Homo sapiens: one gene and its partners. The protein of the gene in region 3 purifies or fractionates together with the protein of the main gene of each other region. This does not show direct contact. Each region holds a gene or a part of one and is shown on either strand. Other genes may lie near its edges.

Region 1 (3,500 bases), on a different chromosome or scaffold from region 3:
CTGCCTCAGCTTCCCGAGTAGCTGGGACTACAGGCGCACGCCACCACACCTGGCTAATTTTTGTATTTTTTAGTAGAGACAGGGTTTCACCATATTGGCCAGGCTGGTCTCGAACTCCTGACCTTGTGATCCGCCCACCTCAGCCTCCCAAAGTGCTGGGATTATAGACGTGAGCCACCGTGCCCGGCCTAATTTTTGTATTTTTTAAAGTAGAGTCAGAGTTTCGCCACATTGGCCAGGCTGGTCTCAAACTCCTGACCTCAAGTGATGCGCCCACCTCAGCCTCCTAAAGTGCTGGGATTACAGGCATGAGCCACTGCGCCTGGCCTAGATATTCATTTCTACAACTCACTGAGCACCCACCCCGATTCGGGACTCGGTACTGGGTATCCAGGGATGCGTATGACCAGCTCTGCCCTCAATAGCGGCTCAACACAGGGAGACCTTCAGGTAAGTGCTCAAATGTCCCTTTCTCAGTTAGGCCTTCCTGACCACCCTGTTGAAAATGAAAGCTCAGTCCCCAGTGCTCAGCCACACCCCATCCCAGGCCTATGCTTTGTTTTGCTGTCTGGCACATATCACCATCTGATATAAATTTGCTTATTTTCTGTAGCCTTCCGTTAAAGTATCTGCCCCATGAAAGCAGGGATTTGATGTTTTTCTCTCCCCTCCTTCATCCACTTCTGCATGCCCAGTGCTTAGGAGAGTGCCTGGCACATAGAAAGGTATCAATCAATAGCTCTTTAATTAATCTATTCTAGATTCTAGAATTAAACATTCTAGGCAGAAGGAGTAGCGTGCGCAGAGGAGGTTCACACGGGGCTTGGGCGGCTGCAGCACAGGGTGTGCAGAGGGCAAGGGCAGGAAGGAGAGCTGGAGTGAGGCCACCAAGGGTCATTTGTGCTGCTCCCAAGATCTGGGTGGTTATCCTGTAATAACGGGGAACTAATAAAATCCACCAGTGACCATATGGAGCGCTGTGGAGGCCTTACAAGTACCAAGGCTTACAAGTACCTGTCAGCATGTGGAAAACAATGTAGGGGAGGACCGACTTCAAGTCACGGTCAGAGACAGACGTCATGTAAGCACACTGCTGCTCTTACGCTGTGTGGGATTAGGACAGAGGATGTCCTAGAGGGACCGCCAGGTGTATCTGCATCTCTCACACATGGCAGAGAGGAAAGGGAGCCTCAGGCCTAGGGGCACCAGAAACTGAGATCCTAAGCCTCTGCCTGGCCTGCTCCACAGAATGCCCAGCTCTGGCCACAGTGGGGCTGCCCCCACCATGATTTTCACTGGGAACAGGAGACAACAGACTCTTAAGACCTGAAACCTGTAGTGAATGCTCAGCCCCCACAGCCTTGTTGTTCAACCCCACTCGCCTTCTGTGAAGACATGGCCAGTCTGCATAGCTAGCTCTGTAGGAAAAGGTCACAGAATAAAGTAGAAGTCAAATTGGATGATACTGGCTGGGCACAGTGGCTCACACCTGTAATCCTAGCACTTGGGGAGGCCAAGGCGGGTGGATCACCTGAGATCAGCAGTTCGAGACCAGCCTGGCCAACATGGTGAAACCCTGTCTCTACTAAAAGTACAAAAATTAGCCGGGCATGGTGGCGGGCAGTTGTAATCCCAGCTACTCAGGAGGCTGAGGAAGGAGAATCGCTTGAACCCGGGAGGTGGAGGTTGCAGTGAGTCAAGATCGCGCCACTGCACCCTAGCCTGTGGGACGGGAGTGAGACTCCATCTCAAAAAAGAAAAAAAAAATTTGGATATTTGGGGTCAAATATCATAATGAGATTGTCTTCTTAGGTTCTTGGATAAACAAGCTCTGACGATCATTCCCAAACAAGAGTTCAAAAATGTTTTCCGCAATAGCAATGATATGGACGGAAAGGATGCCCTCCTGCACTGATGCCTCTGGAGGACCACACTTTCCATTCAGAGACACGCTCAGCACTCAACTCATGCTGCACACCCGGCCGACCCCAGTACCGACACTCACAGAATGCAGGTTGGAGAGAGATGCCGACTTCCGAGGAGGTGTCTTCTTCGGACTGAACGTATTCCCAAAGAAAGGCATCTTTGGCCTGATGAAAGCAAAGCCAGTGCTCCCTTCTCCTAGGGTCAGAAAAAGTCAGGGGTACAAGCAGCTGGATCACTGACCTTATGCCATTGTCTTCAAATCTTGAAGACATACATTTTATCATGTGGCTACTAACGATCCTGGTGCTATGGTTTGAATGTCCCCACCAAAACTCATGTTGAAATTGAATTGCCATTGTTTAACAGTATAAGGGGTGACTGGGCCATGTGAGCTCTGCTCTCATGAATGGATTAATGCCATTGTCATGGAGTAGGTTAGTTTTCTCTGGCGTGGGCTCCTGGCAAAAGGATGAGTTCTGCTGCCATGCTGTCTGTCTCATGCACTTGCTCACCATGTGAGCCTTCTGCCTCACACAGGATGACCCTCACCAGATACTTGCACCATGCTCTTGGACTTCCCAGTCTCCAGAACTGTGAGCCAAATAAACTTCTTTTCTTTATAAATTACCCAGTCTGTGGTAATCTGTAACAGCAGCACAAAATGGATTAAGACGCCTGGTAATAGCTCCCATGTGCTGAACGCTCCCTTTGTGCTACGCGGTATGCTAAGATTTTTTGGGTGGCACACAGTGGCGCATGCCTGTAGTCCCAATTACTTGGGAAGCTGAGGCTGGGGGGTCGCTGGAGCCCAGGGAGGTTGAGGCTGCAGTGAGCTGTGGTCCACTGCTGCTCTCCAGTCTAGGCTACAGAATGAGAGACCATGTCTCAAAAAAAAAAAGTTAGCCTGGCATGGTGGCACACAACTACAGTCTCAGTGACTCAGGAGGCTGAGGTAGGCAGATCACTTGAGCCCAGGAGTTTAAGACCAGCCTGGCCAACATGGCAAAACTCTGTCTCTACAAAAAATACAAAAATTAGCCAGGTATGGTGGTGCGTGCCTGTAGTCTCAGCTATTCAGTAGGCTTAGGTGGGAGGATCACTTGAACCTATGAGTCTGAGCCTCCAGTGAGCTATGATCATGCCACTGCACTCCAGCCTGAGTCAAAGAGCATTACCCTGTCTCTAAAAAAAAAAAAATAAAGAAAGAAATGGCTGGGCACGGTGGCTCATATCTGTAATCCCAGCACTTTGGGAGGCCGAGGCGGGCAAATCAAGAGGTCAGGAGTTTGAGACCAGCCTGGCCAACGTGGTGAAACCCTGTCTCTACTAAAAATACAAAAAATTAGCTGGGCATAGTGGCGGGTGCCTGTAATCCCAGCTAGTTGGGAGGCTGAGGCAGGAAAATTGCTTGAACCCAGGAGGCAGAGGTTGCAGTGAGCCGAGATTGCGCCACTGCACTCCAGCCTGGGTGACAGAGCAAGACTCTGTCTCAAAAATAAATTAAAAAAATAAATAAATAAATGAGTAAAGCTATGCTTATATTTCCTTTCCAGATTGATAACAGTGCTCCTCAC
Region 2 (3,500 bases), on a different chromosome or scaffold from region 3:
ACGTTACAGGGAGAGCTAATAAAATTTTTAAAAATGATATACCCCGGTTTTACAGAAAAACCTCATTAGAATGAAAAAAAAAAGCTATGACATTAAATTCTTTAGATTATCAAATAAAACTGGTTTATCAACTGCTATGCAGAAATATCAATGCAGGGTACTTAAAAATGTTATTTTTCTGCATTTACCCCCCTGCCCCATCAACTTAAAAACTACCAGTTCGAATAGTAAAGGAAATGGCAGATGAGCAAAGATGGTTGCCTATCTGGTTTTAATCATCGTATTTGCGATGCCCAAATAACTAAAGCTTTAATACAACCTTAATTCTATAAGCAACCTGGAACGGGGGAAAATTAAATCTCTCACAGCTATTCACATTACCCAAATAGGAAGATTTTAACTTTACTTTCACAAATGTAAATGCTACACCCGGTTACTATCAAAGTACAGGGCATACCATTGAGACTGACTCGAAGCAAAATACAGTACAAATTTATTGACTCCAATCATTCTTAGTCAACATTTAAGCAAACTGTAGACAATGGAATTGAATACAAATAAGCAATGGATTAACATTAGATAGAAATCCTATTTTACCATGAATTTTCAGTTCGAAAAAGCTTATTCCTAAGTAAAATGGAAAAATGACTTACTCTGCTAAGGCATATGACAAAATACACAGAATTATAAAACCATTCGTTTTTCTTTTAACCATAAGCATATATTCAATGGAAAACTTGAAATAGCCTTGGACTAATGTTCTGAAAACTAGTATTAACTGAGTATAACTGTGTGAAAAATCTGGACAGCATTAACAAATGAAAGAGCACTGAATTCTGTTATTTTAAAGATTTACAGTAAAATACTTTGGTTCCCAAAAGACTGTCTCTAAAAGGAATTTTTAAAAACACCTGACATTGTAACTCATTTTTTCTCCTCCAGAATCTAAACACCAATTTTGTCTTCTCCCCAGTCACATGGGAATGCCACAAGCTGGAGTACCCGCTGAGATACACTGAAAGAGCATATTAAAAATTACAAAAAATTAAACTTCTTAAAGTGCTAAAACCACAAAAAGCCATAAATGAAAACCTATTTTTTAAAACTTAAAGTTTAGTAGTCAGTGTTAAAGAACACTTTTAAAGAGTACGTGTCAGCATTATTTAAATCAATAATGCATTTCACAATTATTGCAGAAACATCACTGAGACATCGTAAATTGTCAAACTGACTTGTAATCCAGTTAGATACAATTTATACAGAAATCTATTTGGAATTATACCTAATTACTTTTTACTAAGAAACTTCAAATAATTTTACTTCCTGAAGTTCCAGATTACAGTTGTATACACACATGCATGCATGTGTGTACAAACCCAATTTGAGACAACAAAGGCCAACTTTAGATCTGTTAATTCTTCCATCTCTCCCTCACCCTGATCAGAGAGTTGGCCTTGTAGGTGCATCCACACCGCACCTCCGTGAACAGACACATTTTATTCCTGTTTCACAGCAGCTACTCTCATTAGCACCAATGGGACTACATATGGATTCAAACGGTCACTCATTAAGTGCTGGGGCACATTTTTACAGGCAAGGCTATAAACGTTCCATTCCAAACCAGAAAACCAAGAACATCACACATCTCCCCACAAATGCAAAGAACATCACTGTTGAATTGTTAGTTGTATATTCTGGTAAAATTATAAATGCATACTAACTAGTTTTAAAGGTGAATATTCTACAAATCTTCAAATATTACTGTTAAAATGCACAATATTTGTTACCTCCATTGCTTACTTTGAGTGATAAAAACATGTTTTATGTTACTCCTTCCTTCTCCCACATAAACGATTCAGTATCAAGTTCTCAGATTAACAAAGAATATATTAAAACATTTTACATTCTTTCCACAACTGCATAAAAAAGCAGGCATCCTGCATACTTACATGGAATAAAGAGCTTTCTACATTTTCAAAATTAATTACAATCCTAAAATATATTTACATGAATATCTTCACTAGCTAATGAGTTGCAACAATTTAAGACCAACTTGTTTTACACCAAGTATTTGCCTACTGGCTGAGATAAACATTCTTAAAAAACTTTACTGAATAAAGTAATTAACATATCTTTCATTATTTTACTTCTTAACATTTAAAATAGTTACATGAGTGGAAGCATATTTTTTTTGACCACCAAAATAAACTCTTTCAGCCTAATGCTTTTAAAGTACAGTATAAAAAGTAATAGAAAAACCAGAACGGCATTATAAATGTTTTTGGTTCAAAATTTTATTTGAAATCTTATATTCCTTGCTTAGACAAAAATGTGAAGACAAAACACCAGTCATTTTTAAAATCTAACAGATATGCAGAACCTATGTTTAGATCAAAAATATTTTTTTTTTTTACTGATTAACAATATTATTTTTAAAAAATCTTCGAAAATGTAGCATAAAGGTTTAGGTCCTGGGATACTGAATTTATAATGCCAAGATACTCTGTATCATGGAATTATCACCGATAGATACTCTAATGGCCATGTAGGTGATGATTACTCAGGGAAACTGTCTTCTTTTGAAGTGACAGCTACCAAGATGGACAGAGTAAGAAATACCACATTATACGCGGAATGAATTCAATGTACAATAATCCATCCTGATGTTTCATGTAAACCCATATGCTTTAGTTTTATCCTTAAAATGCATAGATTTCTTTAAGAAAACAAAGATGGCAAGAATCAATAACTGCAATTTATTTTCCCTTCTCCATCAAATTTAAGAAAGAATAGGAAGTTAACTACTAAAATATTGTGGAATTTTGGAGTTTTTTCAAGTGAAAGAATACAAGGCAAAATTTCATATATAATATCCATAATGTACAAAGTCAATCAGTATTTTATAAAAATGTCTGGTTCAATAAAAAAAATGAGAATATCTTTCCTACCACTGGTATGGAATGTTGGCAATAAGATTGATGGGTACAGAGTTATTTTCTGCTAGAGCACAAATCTAAAATTATTTCTTAATGACAGTAGTTGGCTTTTAAAAAAAATTTGAAAGAATACCTCGTAACACAAACTAGAGTCTAAATTGGTATTACTTTCTTAAAAGGATTTTGTAGTTTCGTTTTTTTAATACATCTAACTCCCACCCCCACAAGTAAAAGTTTTCCCTTTTGAAACACATTGAACTTTGGATATCCTACTGAAAGGCTTTCAATTACAAATTATACATAGTATTCTTTGAAAAGCCCAAAACCCATGGAGCAAAATAAGTAGCTAAAACTAATTTTGGACCACTGATAGTGCTCTAATACCTATTTTTGAAATATTAAGCAATGATGTAGAGAATGGCCTTGCCCATGATTTTAACCATCAGACCCCCAACAAATTCTAACAGAAATTGTCACAAGAGAGAGGCAGGAAAATGTATATGTCGTATATATTGTTCTTGGAAAGCATGTTGAAACTGCAGTGAGGTGTTTCTCCTCTGCTCT
Region 3 (2,635 bases):
GTGGTCACCAGGCCATTTTTGCTTAGGTGAGATTATATTAACTGCTTCCCCCCATCTCTCCTACAGTGGCTCAGAAATCAAAGATGGGGAAATAGAGGCCAGAAGTAGAAGAAAATAGAAGAAACACACTTGGTGAAATGAAAATTAGACCCTGAATAAAAACTGTGAGTAGTCAAGAAATAGGAAGTTTCAAAAGGAGACAGTTAATCTACTGGGATATATCTGCTGATGATGGAGGGAGGAACTCTTTGTAGGAACCTTAAAGAATTCAAGGTTGGACATAGAGGAAACTGGAGGAAATGAAATCCTGTCAAATGCCTTAAAATCTTCAGGACACAGGACACTTGCCTTTTCTCTATAGAAAAGTTGGTTTCTTGGAAAGAAGGTGGCTGGAACAGCTAAGTATCCCTTGGATAATTATAGCTATAAGTTAGTGTTACCCTCCCTCCCCATTCCTCATTCCCCATACCCACACCTCCAGGCAGAAGTGACAAAACAGAGACTTCTGAACACATTTATTTGATATGTCAAGTGGAGAGAGGAGTGATTTAGGGTTTCTCCCCACTTCTACCTGTGGGGGTGTTCATAAGCTCAGACAGACAGAAGAGCAGCTTAGAGCCCATGACCCACCCCCTGGGAAAATGAGACAATCTGTTGTAGTTGTTGGAGGAACAGGGTGGGAATAAAAAGCAGGAAGTTGAGAAGTGAAGTTGAGAGCAGTAAAGACAGCAGCAGAACTGAGGCTGGGGGTTGCTGCAGGAACCCCCAAGAAGAGTGAAAAAGATATCCTGAAAAGTGGTTGGGGTTAGAAGCAGGGTGTGAATAAGGAGCCAGGCCTGGAGAAAGAAGCAAGACCTGCAGAATGGGCTGGGATGTCCACGGAGAGAGTGTGCAAAATCATGATAGGCTGTGTTTCAGGGCATACATGGAAAGCAAGGGATTGCTTCTGCAGGAGGGCAAAGACATCGGAGACTGCCCATAAGTAAGGGTTCCCTACTGCTTCTGAACAAATGCAAGAGAGTTTGGGACCCTAGCCCTGTGTGTTTATTGATATGCTGTGCCTGTAGGTACACAAGTAATCCCATATGCATGTGAAATGACCAGGGCATGAATACATGTGTGTATATACCCAGTAAATAGAGTACTTATTCTTTCTTGCTAATAAGAGTACTGTGCTTATGGACACATGTTTAACCATGTGTGGGTGCACTGTGCACCCATGAGCACATGCAAGAGATCCCTTTGTTCGTGGTGTGTGTGTGAGCTGGTTCTCCCACCTATCCCATTAAGGTCCTAATCCCCACCCTCCTTGGCTCCTCTCACTCCTCTCAGCGCCCTGGCTCCCCAGGCCCACCTAGACTCTGGAAGCCCCCCAGCAGGCGGATCTGCTCAGTCTGCATGGAGTGGCGTCTCACCAATTTGCGCTTGGTCCTGGGAGAGCCTGGCGCCCCGGCATAAGGAGGGGCAGGCAACGAAGGCGCCCGACCTCCGGGTTGTGGGCGAATGTCAGGGATGGGAGGGTGGGGACTGACGTTGAGAGGGGGTAGGAAACCCGGCCGCGTTTGCGAGATGTGGTCCAGGAGCAACGTCCCCGAGCCCCTCCGCTCCAGCAGCCCCGGACTCCGCCTCCTTCCGCTTAGCGGAGATACTGCCCCTGGCAGACTCTCCTGGGACTGGCGCGGAGAGGGAGCCGAGCCGGCTGGAGGGAGGGTCAACGGGGAGGCGCTGTATCGGCGGCGCTCCAGGGACAGGCGGCTGGACTCAGGCGAGTCAGGGCAAAGGTGTCCAGGGGTGTCCAGCTCCACTGGCTCCATGCGGCTCAGTTTCTGCCTCAGCCCTGAAGGGGGACCAGACTCCTGAGCTTCTGGTGCTGTGTTTCGGCGAGAGAGAGGACCCCCGCTAGTCACTTTCTCCGCCCATGGGGGCGGGTCCTCAGGGCCTTCGGTGCTGTGACGTCGGGAAAGACGGGGTCGACCGGTCAGGGTCAGGCCATTGAATTCGGCAGTCAAGCGCTCGATCCCCGGTCTCCCTTCAGTGGGTGGGACTGGTTGAGGAGGGGCCACTAGGCCCCAGGGCTCGGAGTTGAGCCTTTTGAGTGGTTTTGGGGGATGGCGTGGTGGTTTGGGGAGCGGCTCGGAAGGGGATGGGTCATCGGGGGGCTTAGGAAGAGGGAATTCAAATACGTCCCGCTTCTCCTCTTCTTCCTGGGCGCGAGGGGATAACATCCCACGCCCTCCTCCTCCAGCGGTCTGCAGTTGGATTTCCGAAGGCGACGTGCAGAACCCCGGGCTAGGAGAGGCGGGAGCAGGGTCCTCCACCCCTGGGGATGGTGGAGAATTGAGATACTGCCGGGTCTTCTTGGTGCCTGAGGGCGAGGTATCGGTGGTGATGATGATGACCTCCGTACCCTTGGCCTTGCAGGCGTCCAGCAGTGTGGCAAGGGTCTCGCGGTCCCCGCGGTCCAGGGCGTGGACAAGAGCCGAGGCGCCCGCGTGATCTCGGACTGAGGGGTCTGCGCCGTGGGCAAGGAGCAGCGAGGCCACCGCGGCGCCCCCACCCCCGGCGCAAGCGTGCATGAGCGCCGTGCGCCCTAATCGGTCTGCGATATTGGGGTCCGCGCCTTGCTCCAGGAGGT
Region 4 (3,500 bases), about 60 Mb from region 3:
CTTATGCTGAGAACAGGCCTCTCTCCCAACAATGAGGAGCTCTTCCCCTGAGGAGGAGAAAGGATCTTGTTTAGGGCTCTGACCTCCATTGAAGGACAGTGTTCAGATTGTCATCAATAAGCAGAGAGAACAAAGAGGTACCAGAACAGGGAGCAAGGCTCTACTAACCCAGTGAGACAATGACACCTAGGGCATTAAGTGGCTGAAATCTACTGAATCAAAAATCCTCGGCTAAAGGGAGACAGGAATCTGTATTTTAGAGAAGTTCCCCAAGCAACTCTTACGTGAGGCCAGATTTTAATACCAGGGAATTAGTCCAGTTCTTCAGTTAGCTAGAGGAGCTTGGGAGTGGGTGAGAAACAAAGCTGGGTTTCAGAACAATTCAGTGACAAGCCTAGATGACCCAGGTGGTGATATAACAGCAAGACTCGGACCCAAATCCCATATGATGTTGTGAGGTGTGGCAGGTTTGCTTGTGGAGAAACCAAGGCAGGAAAGCAAGAGTGGTCGGGCCAGAGTTTTGCAAAGCCCAACTGCTGCCAACAAGACCCTGAAACAAATGGCAGGCCTCCGAGATGAGATACACTTGAAGCCCCAGAGACTGGGATGCTAAATTGGCTGGCTCCAGATGCCTCACTTTGATGACTGGAAGGAGAGGTGAGAAAGGGTGTAATTACATAGCTTCACTTAGGTGTGGCTCAGGACCTGGGCCAGATTGGAGTCTGTAGGTGAGAGGGCTTGTAAGACCCAACTGTAAGGGGAAGCAGCAGGAAAAACAAGGCCAAGAATAACTCACAGGCAAAAAACAAAAAGCTTATCCCTGCGCTTGCCCCTTGCAAAACACATGTGCCTATTAGCCGCTTTCCTCAATCCCCTTTGCATCACATATTTTAAAAAATGGGCCAGATGTCAGGGGGAGCTGGATACCTTCCTGACAGGACCCTAATTTGCAGCATAACCTTGGACAAGTGAGTCTCGTAGTCCTCTGGACCTTGAGCTTCCTTATCTAGCAACTGGAGACAGCAATGCTTACCCATAATGGTGATGTGAGAGTCAAATGAGTTAACACTGAGAAACCTTAAATGCTATACAAATATAAGGGATGGCATTGTAACTCTTTAGTTAAGTTCTTGCCACTCACTTCTGTGCAAGAGAAGCTGATGTAATAAAGTATTTCCTAGGTCGGGTGCAGGGCCCACACCTGTAATCCTAGCACTTTGGGAAGTCGAGGCAGGTGGATCACCTGAGGTCAGGTCACCTGAGGTGAGGAGTTCCAGATCAGCTTCACTAACATGGTGAAACCCCATCTCTACTAAAAATACAAAAATTAGCTGGGCATGGTGATGCATGCCTGTAGTCCCAGTTACTGGGGAGGCTGAGGTAGGACAATTGCTTGAACCTGGGAGATGGAGGTTGCAGTGAGCCAAGATTGCACCACTGCACTCCAGCCTGGGGGACAGAGCAAGACTCTATCTCAAAAAAAAAAAAAAAAAAAAAAAAAAGGAAGAAAGTATTTCCTGGCAGATAGACGAGTGTAGTGGTTATGAGCCTGGGTTGAGTCATCAGGCCTAGGTGCAAATTTTGCCTCTGTCATTTGTTAACTGACTCTGACTAAGTCATCTAAACTCTCTGTTAATCTGTAAAAATATAGATAATAATGCCTTCCTCCCAGAATTCCAGTTAGGATTGAATAAGTGTGAAGTGTTTCACTTGGTGCTTGGCAAGCACCCTGATGGATCATGGCTGCTATCTTCCTAATTGTTCTCAAAATGCACCAGATTCCTGAACAATAGTATCGGGGAATGTCTGACGAGTATTCTGAAACCAGAAAAGAGGTGCCCTCAGGCCCTTGGCTTTAAGCACTTACATCAATAAGGTCAGATAGGTCATGGATGTAGTACTTGAAGACAGATGCATTGGTTGCCTCCAAAGCCAGCAAGTACTCATTCCGGGCTTTGATGGCCTTCAGCTTATTCTCCGTGTACTTGGCTTGACGCTGAAAAGGAAACAGAAGTTCACTTTTACCTTTTTTTTTTTAAGGGGGGCTTGTTCTCTAAAAGATAAAAGTACAGTGTATTCAAGAACTACAATTGTGTTGCTACTCCCTATGCGCATCTGCCTTAAATTGGGTTCTAATTCTGTTTAATGAGATTCAAGGGCACAATGTAGATCAATTCAGGAAAGGTTAATGAGGCTCCCTACTTAAGATGCGTGCCCCACTTTGATTCTATCTTCAAATATCATTCTTCATTCTTGCAATGCCACTCTGAAGGAGGTACCACTACTCTTGCCCCTGAACACCTGATACCTGAAACCAAATCCTGGGTTTACAGTCACCCCCAACCCCTCCAAAGCAATAGGATATTGAGCTCTATTTGGAAAATGGATTGGGAAAGGTGACTGCTGTTTCTTGGTTTTCTGCTAGAGGCTAGAAACTTGGATCCCACGTGCCCAGTTCTTCCAATACCTAGTATTCCTGCCAGGGCACAGAGCAAGGCCTCATTTTCAGTCATTAGGCACTAAAAGAACCCAGAGCTTCCTCGTCTGCTCTTCCCAGTGACTACTGGGAAATTCCTATCAGCCATGCCTTACCGAATGTTGCTTCCCAGCATCTACAGCTGTGGGAGCCTACATACCTTCTCCTTCATCTTCTCAATCTTCTTCACTGAGCTCCTCCGGACATGTTTCTCCTCAATGCGAACGTTGGCCGTGGAGTCAGGGGAGCGTGGGGTCTGCCGGTCCTCCTGCTTTACCGATTTACCAATTTGCTTCTCCTCCTGCTTCTCCGCCTCCTTTAGTTTGCTCTGAGCACTGATGCTGTCGGCATTGTACATGTGATATGTCTTCATCACCTGCAAGACATCGCCCACCCCCACCCCCAGAGGTCAAGCCAAGGGGGTCATTTCTCTGCTTTACAGACTAACAGACTCAGCTGGAGCTCTCCCCCATGAAGCAATATCCTCACACCCCTAAGGGAAAAATCCAGAAGTGTTTGGTTCAGCAAACACAGATTAAAGACCACTCCAAAGCACAGGAAAGCAATATGTGAACTGAGCCAACATTTCCTCTTATTGAAATAACTTAATGTCTATCCATCATGTATTATTTATTTCTATTCATTATCATTTGTAATCATTTCTCTTTAATATTGGCCAGGTGATTTCTATCACTTAGTCACCTCATAATACTGAGTAGATGGGAAACAACACCACCACTCTCAGGCCCCAAGGGCAAAGCCTTTCTGGGCTGGTCAGGAACCCCGAAGAGGGCAGTGCAGCCTATGGAGTAGCCTATGCTTTCTGTTACCTTTCAGATATAAAATAGGGAAGAGGAAAAGCTTCCAAAAGCTCCTTTTACCGGCCTGGCATTCTGGGGATCTGTCTGTTCTGCTTTATCCAGATCAAACACCCTCTCACAGCAACTGCAATGCCAGTTATCATTTACTGAGCACTTAGTATATTCCTGGCTTTATGCCAAGTACCACACAACACATTTTCTCA

Evidence for each region. The genes of interacting proteins can lie anywhere in the genome.
Region 1: the proteins of ANKRD34A (region 3) and CBY1 purify together in Homo sapiens (affinity purification with mass spectrometry, with the first as the bait; one large-scale study listed by BioGRID). This does not show direct contact.
Region 2: the proteins of ANKRD34A (region 3) and ZBTB21 purify together in Homo sapiens (affinity purification with mass spectrometry, with the first as the bait; one large-scale study listed by BioGRID). This does not show direct contact.
Region 4: the proteins of ANKRD34A (region 3) and SRGAP2 purify together in Homo sapiens (affinity purification with mass spectrometry, with the first as the bait; one large-scale study listed by BioGRID). This does not show direct contact.

Annotation. Positions count from the first base shown.
Region 1 is NC_000022.11:38,666,638-38,670,137, reverse strand, and holds part of CBY1 (protein chibby homolog 1), read right to left. Parts: intron 2,122-3,500; 5' UTR 2,084-2,121; coding exon 2,006-2,083; intron 1-2,005. UniProt on the Homo sapiens protein: Inhibits the Wnt/Wingless pathway by binding to CTNNB1/beta-catenin and inhibiting beta-catenin-mediated transcriptional activation through competition with TCF/LEF transcription factors.
Region 2 is NC_000021.9:41,986,361-41,989,860, forward strand, and holds the end of ZBTB21 (zinc finger and BTB domain-containing protein 21), read right to left. Parts: 3' UTR 471-3,500; downstream 1-470. UniProt on the Homo sapiens protein: Acts as a transcription repressor.
Region 3 is NC_000001.11:145,958,941-145,961,575, forward strand, and holds the end of ANKRD34A (ankyrin repeat domain-containing protein 34A), read right to left. Parts: coding exon 1,329-2,635; 3' UTR 501-1,328; downstream 1-500.
Region 4 is NC_000001.11:206,392,041-206,395,540, reverse strand, and holds part of SRGAP2 (SLIT-ROBO Rho GTPase-activating protein 2), read right to left. Parts: intron 2,853-3,500; coding exon 2,637-2,852; intron 1,997-2,636; coding exon 1,868-1,996; intron 1-1,867. UniProt on the Homo sapiens protein: Postsynaptic RAC1 GTPase activating protein (GAP) that plays a key role in neuronal morphogenesis and migration mainly during development of the cerebral cortex. Regulates excitatory and inhibitory synapse maturation and density in cortical pyramidal neurons.